Homo sapiens: one gene and its partner. The protein of the gene in region 1 purifies or fractionates together with the protein of each later gene. This does not show direct contact. Each region holds a gene or a part of one and is shown in the gene's direction. Other genes may lie near its edges.

Region 1 (3,747 bases):
CGGGTCATCCCGGGCCACCCGAACCCAAGGGACCCAAAGGCACCCTTCCCGGGCCGTTCACCCACCCCTCAGCCTCCCTCCACCCTGCTCTGTGCGTGGGGAGGCTCTGGGACCTGCCCTCAAGGGGGACTGTCAGGAACATGCCTCTCTTTTTAGGGGGCAGTTCTGCTGGCGTCGGGGGGCACTGAGGGGCACAGGGTTCCCTGTGTCTAGGCCTCAGGGACGCTCTGGATACTTCTGAGCTCCATGGGTGCCCATTTCACGGGCATGGGAGGCTGAGGCTCAGACCCAGGGCACAGCAGAGTGTGGGCGTCCGCCCGTCTTTCTCTGCAAGCCCCAGGAGCACACTGTCCCACTGGGACACATCTGCAGAGCTGTGTTCTCGCCGCCCAGGGCACAGCCACGCTGAGCCGGCTCGGTCGGATGCAGGTGCCATAGTCACAGGCGCTCAGGTCTTCACACCCCATCTGTGTCACCACAGCCAACAGGGTGAAGATGGCTGTCCCCAGAGGGGGCCGCTGGGCCTAGTGGGTGCCGCTGCCAAGGGTGAGCTGTCACCGCCCAGGGCCACCTGGAGGGGGGAGCCTGGAACCGGCTACAGCTGGTGCGGTCCCCACCACAGCCCTCCCCAGCCCGTTGCCCGCAGCCTGGCACACGAAGCTCCCACAGGGGGGACCCCTTGGTCTCCCCTCACCTCCTGTCCTCCTTTCCTCCTCGGTCTTTAGCATGGGGGTGCTGAGGGCCAGGCCAAGCTGAGGGGCTGCGGGGAGAGCGGGACCCCAGGTCGCACACAAATCTGCCGAGGGGACTGAGCCAGCTCGGGGCCCCTCCCCGCCCACAGCCTGCTTTCAGGCAAGGCCGCCACAATTCTCCTGCCACGTCCAGCACCTCCCACAACAGGGGCCGGCTTGTGGAGGAAGGACCTGTGGGGAATGGCCGCGTGTCCGTGTCCAGAGGCCCAGGGTCGGAGCGGGACAAGGCCAAGGTGCTGTGTGGGCTTGGCCTGGGGCCCACAGAGAATGGAGCCCCCGCCCGCTGAGGCCTGGGAGGCCTAGAAGTCATTCCCGCGAGTCGTCCGGCCCAGTCCTTATCCGCTGAGAGGCGGGGCTGGTGCGGGGCCTCCCCAGGGGTGTCATGAGGGAATGAAGAGACCCCACGGAGCCTGGGGAGGCTGCGCTCCTGGGCTCCATCCAGCCTGGCTTCCCCGCCAGCAGCATGAGGGCTGTGCGTCACCCGGTGGCTTGGTGGCCATGGGGGCCCCGTGCAGCATGGAGGCCCTGGTCTGGGCCCCGAACACGGGCCTCGGCCTACAGCCCCCCCGCCGGGCCCGCCCAGCCACAGCTTCCATCTGCCTGCTTCTCCTCAGGGCGCCGCACCCCAGGCGGGCAGCAGGCTTGGTTTCCCGATGGAGGAGAGCTGCGTGCCCACGGCACCATCCCCCAACCCAGCCGGCCAAGACGCCGGGCCCCAGCCCCGCTCATGGGCACGGGGCTGGCAGGAGGACCCTGGGGCCGCGAGGCAGGCTTCGCAGTGGACACAGGGGCCCTGCCAGGATCCTGTCCAGGGCTCGGCGGAGCTGGCCTCTCGGCCTGTTGCTCTTGGACAGCCCAGAGGAAGCCACGGGCGCCCAGGCGGGCATGAAAGGGCTCTTTGACGGCTGGGTTGCTGGGACAGTAACACAGACGGCCGGCCAGGCAGGGAGCATCCCTGAGACGGTAACAGGAAGCACAGGGCCTGGGGCTGGTTGTGGGAGTCTTCACAGCCGCCCTGGGCAGGTCGGGCTCCCCCTGAACCCCAGCGGAGCATGATCCAGCCCTGATTGTCTGCCAGGCAGGGCCAGGGGCTGGGACGGCCGGGAACTCCGTGGGGGCTCCTGCAGGCCTCCGTGCATGCACACACCCACTCCTGCCAGGCTCCCTCTGCCGGAGGAGTCCAGGGGGGCTCTTGTGGTGTCCAGTGGGGCCAGGGGGTGAGTCAGGGTCTGCTGAGCTCATGGGGAGGCAGGCAGAGGGTGTCTCAACTGCCAGAGACATTCCACCCACCTGGAATGACCCACTGCAGGAGGAAGGACCTTGCCCTGTGCTACAATCCCAGAGGGCTTCCTGAAGGAGGCAGCCTAGATCTTTGTCCAGCAGAGCCCATCTTCAGGGAATATTGAGGATCCCGACCCGTGCACCTGCCCTAGCGGAAGACACTCCTGGCCAAGCCTCCAGATGTGGCTGTGAGGGGAGTGGGGTAGGCAAGGCCCACCTGGCAGGGGGGCCAGGCTTGTTGGGGCAGCTGCTGTTGGGAGGGGGCCTACCTTGCTCAGGGGGACCCAGGTTGGCTCTGGCTTCCCCTCGGCACCAAGGTGGGACCATCCTTCCCTAGTCTGGGGGAGGCAGAGGAGTGGCCTCCCGAGGCCCCTGCAGGCCCTGCCCTGGGGGCTCCGGACGAGAGGCTCTCTGGGCCTGGCTGAGACGGTGCCTCTGTGCACTGTGCAGGGCCCCCCACCCCAGGCCAGCCTTGGGGGGCCTTTCCCTGGAGCAGACCAGCCACCACGCCCCAGGGCTCTGCCCAGCCACAGTGGGTGGGGCCTTGGGCGGCTACCCGCTCCTGAGTTTAGAGGGCTGTCTCAGAGACCTCTGTGTCCCACAACGGCTTCCCCACCATCTGCCGGGTGTGGGGGCCCCAGCTTTGGGGACCAGGACTCCCCGACTCCAGGTGTGCAGGGTGCCTGGTGCGGCCCAGAGTGTAGCAGCCCCTGAGCCTCGGCCTTGGCCTCACCCACTGGGCCAGGACCGTCCGTGCCCAGGCAGAAGCTCCCGCCTCCACTGGCTGTATTCCCAACGGGGGCAGGGCCGGGCTGCCGTAGGGTCTGGGGGCTCCAGCTGGGGCACCTCCTTCTCAGTCCCTCCCCTCTTTCCTCTCCCCCAGCCCTGGCCAAGATGGCAGCCCCCGCCCTGCTGCTCCTAGCACTGCTGCTGCCCGTGGGGGCCTGGCCCGGGCTGCCCAGGAGGCCCTGTGTGCACTGCTGCCGCCCGGCCTGGCCCCCTGGACCCTATGCCCGGGTGAGTGACAGGGACCTGTGGAGGGGGGACCTGTGGAGGGGGCTGCCTCGAGTACGGCCCACTATAGACATCGAAATCCTCAAAGGTGAGGCCCGTGGGTGCTGCCTGCATGCTCCCCCACCAGGACCCAACAGCCCACAGGGAGTGGGGAGCACCTGGGGCTTGGGAGGAGGGGCGGGAGGGGCACGCTGAGCACCAGTGTCTGCCCTGGCAGCGCTCCCTGCACAGGGACCCCTGGGCTCCCCCCGCAAGCAGGAAGAAGCCTGGCTTGGGGAGGGACCCATGAACCAAAGTGGGGTGCTGAGGATCCTGGGGAAGGGGGCCAGGGTTCCTGAGATCCCCAAAGTAGCAGCCCCTTGGGAAGGGAGCCTGGGCAGCCCGCTTGCTCTGAGACCCCTTGACACGGCTGCGCTGTCCCGAAGGCTGTACTAAGGTTAGGCTTGGGTAGGACCTTCCCAGCCTTCTCATTCTTTAACACCCAACGCAGACCGTAGCTGGCCCTGACCACCCATGTCCCCACCCTCTCGGTGGGGACGGCCTTGCCACAGGCCTTGGTCTAGCCACACCTTTGGAGAACGGCTTCTCCCCATCTTACAGACGTGGACGCGGAGACTGGGAGAGGGGCCGTCACTTGCAAAGAGTGTGTCCTTACAGTGACCCTTGAGCCCCAGCCCCTGGCCTGGGTGCTGGAATGGGG
Region 2 (3,647 bases), on another chromosome or scaffold:
CACCAACACGTCTGGCTAATTTTTTTGTAATCTTAGTAGAGACGGGGCTTCTCCATGTGGTCAGGCTCGTCTCGAACTCCTGACCTCAGCTGATCCTCCTGCCTCTGCCTCCCAAAGTGCTGAGATTACAGGCATGAGCCACCGCACCCGGCCAGGAAAATATTAAAAAAAAAAAAAAAATCCATTGCTGACAACTGTGGAGTGAGATAACATATTTATTAGGATTAATAGTTTAAATGGCCTGCAAGACAATGGTTAAGAAAGCGATAGTTACATTTAATTTAAAAAAGTATTATGTAGGCTTTCAGATGGTACTTGTAAAGACTAAGGGGAACCCCAAAAATGCTTATGATGATGCAATGTTAAATTGAAAGAAGGAAAATATAAAAAGTTAACAGTGTTCTTTATTTCTACTCTCTAAACAGGTAAGTTTGGTGGTTTATAGGTTATAAAGGAGGCTTGTTTGTTTTATTGATATTTTATGAACTGTGGCAACTATTTGATATCTTACTCTTGAAATTTTATCTCATGGTTTCCTGTCCTGTCCTTTCCTGTCCTATCTCTGTCCTGTCTTGTCCTTCTGTCCTGTCCTGTTCTGTCCTTCTGTCCTGTCCTGTTCTTTTTTGAGACAGGGTCTTGCTCTGTCACCCAGGTTGAGTGCAGTGGTGCCATCATGGCTCACTGCATCCTCGACCTCCTGAGCTCAAGTGATCTGCCTACCTCAGCCTCCCAAAGTGCTGGGATTATAGGCGTGAGCCACTGTGCCAGCCAGTTTTTCTTTTCTTAACCAAAGAAAAATTACTTGATACTAAATTGTAAAGTTCACATAAGGAATTAGGATTCTGTTAGATTTTTTCTGTTCTCCTATTTGATTTGCTTCTGTTCTATTTTTTTGTGAACAATACTTAGGAATAGAAGAGTATGTGACTAAAATACTAAAAATCAGTTTTCTGTTTGCTTTCAAGATCTCTGTTTTAATGGCTTGTGCTTGTTACTAGTGGTTTGATTGTTTGAAAGGCTAGGTTGTAGGTCGGGTGTGATGGCTTATGCCTGTAATCCCAGCAATTTGGGAGGCCGAGGCAGGCGGGTTGCCTGAGGTCAGGAGTTCAAGACCAGCCTGGCCAACATGGTGAATCCCCGTCTCTACTAAAAATACAAAAATTAGCCAGGTGTGGTGGCAGATGCCTGTAATCCCAGCTGCTTGGGAGGCTGAGGCAGGAGAATCGCTTGAACCTGGGAGGCGGAGGTTGCAGTGAGCCAGGATCGCACCACCACACTGCAGCCTGGGCAACAGAGCGAGACTCCATCTCAAAAAAAAAAAAAAAAAAAAGAAGAAGGCTAGGTTGTGAAAGCACCTCTCCCTAACAATAGAAGAAGAATATGTAGGGCTCCTCAAATGGCCTTGCCTGAAAAACTAGAGAATAGACATGGAAAGCATTCTGTGATATTTTGGTCCAGCCTCGCTCCCATAACTACTCATCTTTGCCATTCTTCTTTGAAAATGTGCGAATTCCAAGACAAGAACTTTTTTTATTTATTTATTTATTTATTTATTTATTTTTAATTTATTTTTTTATTGATAATTCTTGGGTGTTTCTCACAGAGGGGGATTTGGCAGGGTCATGGGACAATAGTGGAGGGAAGGTCAGCAGATAAACAAGTGAACAAAGGTCTCTGGTTTTCCTAGGCAGAGGACCCTGCGGCCTTCCGCAGTGTTTGTGTCCCTGGGTACTTGAGATTAGGGAGTGGTGATGACTCTTAACGAGCATGCTGCCTTCAAGCATCTGTTTAACAAAGCACATCTTGCACCACCCTTAATCCTTTTAACCCTGAGTGGACACAGCACATGTTTCAGAGAGCACAGGGTTGGGGGTAAGGTCACAGATCAACAGGATCCCAAGGCAGAGGAATTTTTCTTAGTGCAGAACAAAATGAAGTCTCCCATGTCTACTTCTTTCTACACAGACACGGCAACCATCCGATTTCTCAATCTTTTCCCCACCTTTCCCGCCTTTCTATTCCACAAAGCCGCCATTGTCATCCTGGCCCGTTCTCAATGAGCTGTTGGGCACACCTCCCAGACGGGGTGGTGGCCGGGCAGAGGGGCTCCTCACTTCCCAGTAGGGGCGGCCGGGCAGAGGCGCCCCTCACCTCCCGGACAGGGCGGCTGGCTGGGCGGGGGGGCTGACCCCCCCCACCTCCCTCCCGGACGGGGCGGCTGGCCGGGCGGGGGGCTGACCCCCCCCACCTCCCTCCCGGACGGGGCGGCTGGCCGGGCAGAGGCGCCCCTCACCTCCCGGACGGGGCGGCTGGCCGGGCGGGGGGGCTGACCCCCCCCCACCTCCCTCCCGGACGTGGCGGCTGGCCGGGCGGGGGGCTGACCCCCCCACCTCCATCCCGGACGGGGCGGCTGGCTGGGCAGAGGGGCTCCTCACTTCCCAGTAGGGGCGGCCGGGCAGAGGCGCCCCTCACCTCCCGGACGGGGCGGCTGGCCGGGCAGGGGGGCTGACCCCCCCCACCTCCCTCCCGGACGGGGCGGCTGGCCGGGCGGGGGCTGACCCCCCCACCTCCCTCCCGGGCGGGGCGGCTGGCCGGGCGGGGGGCCGACACCCCCACCTCCCTCCCGGGCGGGGCGGCTGGCCGGGCGGGGGGCCGACACCCCCACCTCCCTCCCGGGCGGGGCGGCTGGCCGGGCGGGGGGCCGACCCCCCCACCTCCCTCCCGGACGGGGCGGCTGGCCGGGCGGGGGGCCGACCCCCCCACCTCCCTCCCGGACGGGGCGGCTGGCCGGGCAGAGGGGCTCCTCACTTCCCAGTAGGGGCGGCCGGGCAGAGGCGCCCCTCACCTCCCAGACGGGGCGGCTGGCCGGGCGGAGGGCTGACCCCCCCACCTCCCTCCCGGACAGGGCGGCTGGCCGGGCGGGGGGCTGACCCCCCCACCTCCCTCCCGGACGGGGCGGCTGGCTGGGCAGAGGGGCTCCTCACTTCCCAGTAGGGGCGGCCGGGCAGAGGCGCCCCTCACCTCCCAGACGGGGCGGCTGGCCGGGCGGAGGGCTGACCCCCCCACCTCCCTCCCGGACAGGGCGGCTGGCCGGGCGGGGGTCTGACCCCCCCACCTCCCTCCCGGACGGGGCGGCTGGCCGGGCAGAGGGGCTCCTCACTTCCCAGTAGGGGCGGCCGGGCAGAGGCGCCCCTCACCTCCCAGACGGGGCGGTTGGCCGGGCGGAGGGCTGACCCCCCCACCTCCCTCCCGGACGGGGCGGCTGGCCGGGCGGGGGGCTGACCCCCCCACCTCCCTCCCGGACGGCACGGCTGGCCAGGCGGGGGGCTGACCCCCCCCCCCCCGGATGGCACGGCTGGCCGGGCGGGGGGGCTGACCCCCCACCTCCCTCCCGGATGGGGCGGCTGGCCGGGCGGGGGGCTGATCCCCCCCACCTCCCTCCCGGACGGGGTGGCTGCCGGGCGGAGACGCTCCTCACTTCCCAGATGGGGTGGCTGCCGGGCGGAGAGGCTCCTCACTTCTCAGAGTGGGCAGCTGCCGGGCGGAGGGGCTCCTCACTTCTCAGACGGGGTGGTTGCCAGGCAGAGGGTCTCCTCACTTCTCAGACGGGGCGGCCGGGCAGAGACGCTCGTCACCTCCCAGACGGG

The links. Proteins that work in one complex are often made in the same cells at the same time.
Region 2: the proteins of C1QTNF8 (region 1) and AGGF1 purify together in Homo sapiens (affinity purification with mass spectrometry; one large-scale study listed by BioGRID and IntAct). This does not show direct contact.

The regions. Positions count from the first base shown.
Region 1 is NC_000016.10:1,094,103-1,097,849, reverse strand, and holds the start of C1QTNF8 (complement C1q tumor necrosis factor-related protein 8 precursor), read left to right. Parts: upstream 1-1,605; 5' UTR 1,606-1,694; exon of another isoform or gene 1,695-2,061; 5' UTR 2,062-2,235; intron 2,236-2,916; 5' UTR 2,917-2,927; coding exon 2,928-3,135; intron 3,136-3,747.
Region 2 is NC_000005.10:77,040,257-77,043,903, forward strand, and holds part of AGGF1 (angiogenic factor with G patch and FHA domains 1), read left to right. Parts: intron 1-3,647. UniProt on the Homo sapiens protein: Promotes angiogenesis and the proliferation of endothelial cells. Able to bind to endothelial cells and promote cell proliferation, suggesting that it may act in an autocrine fashion.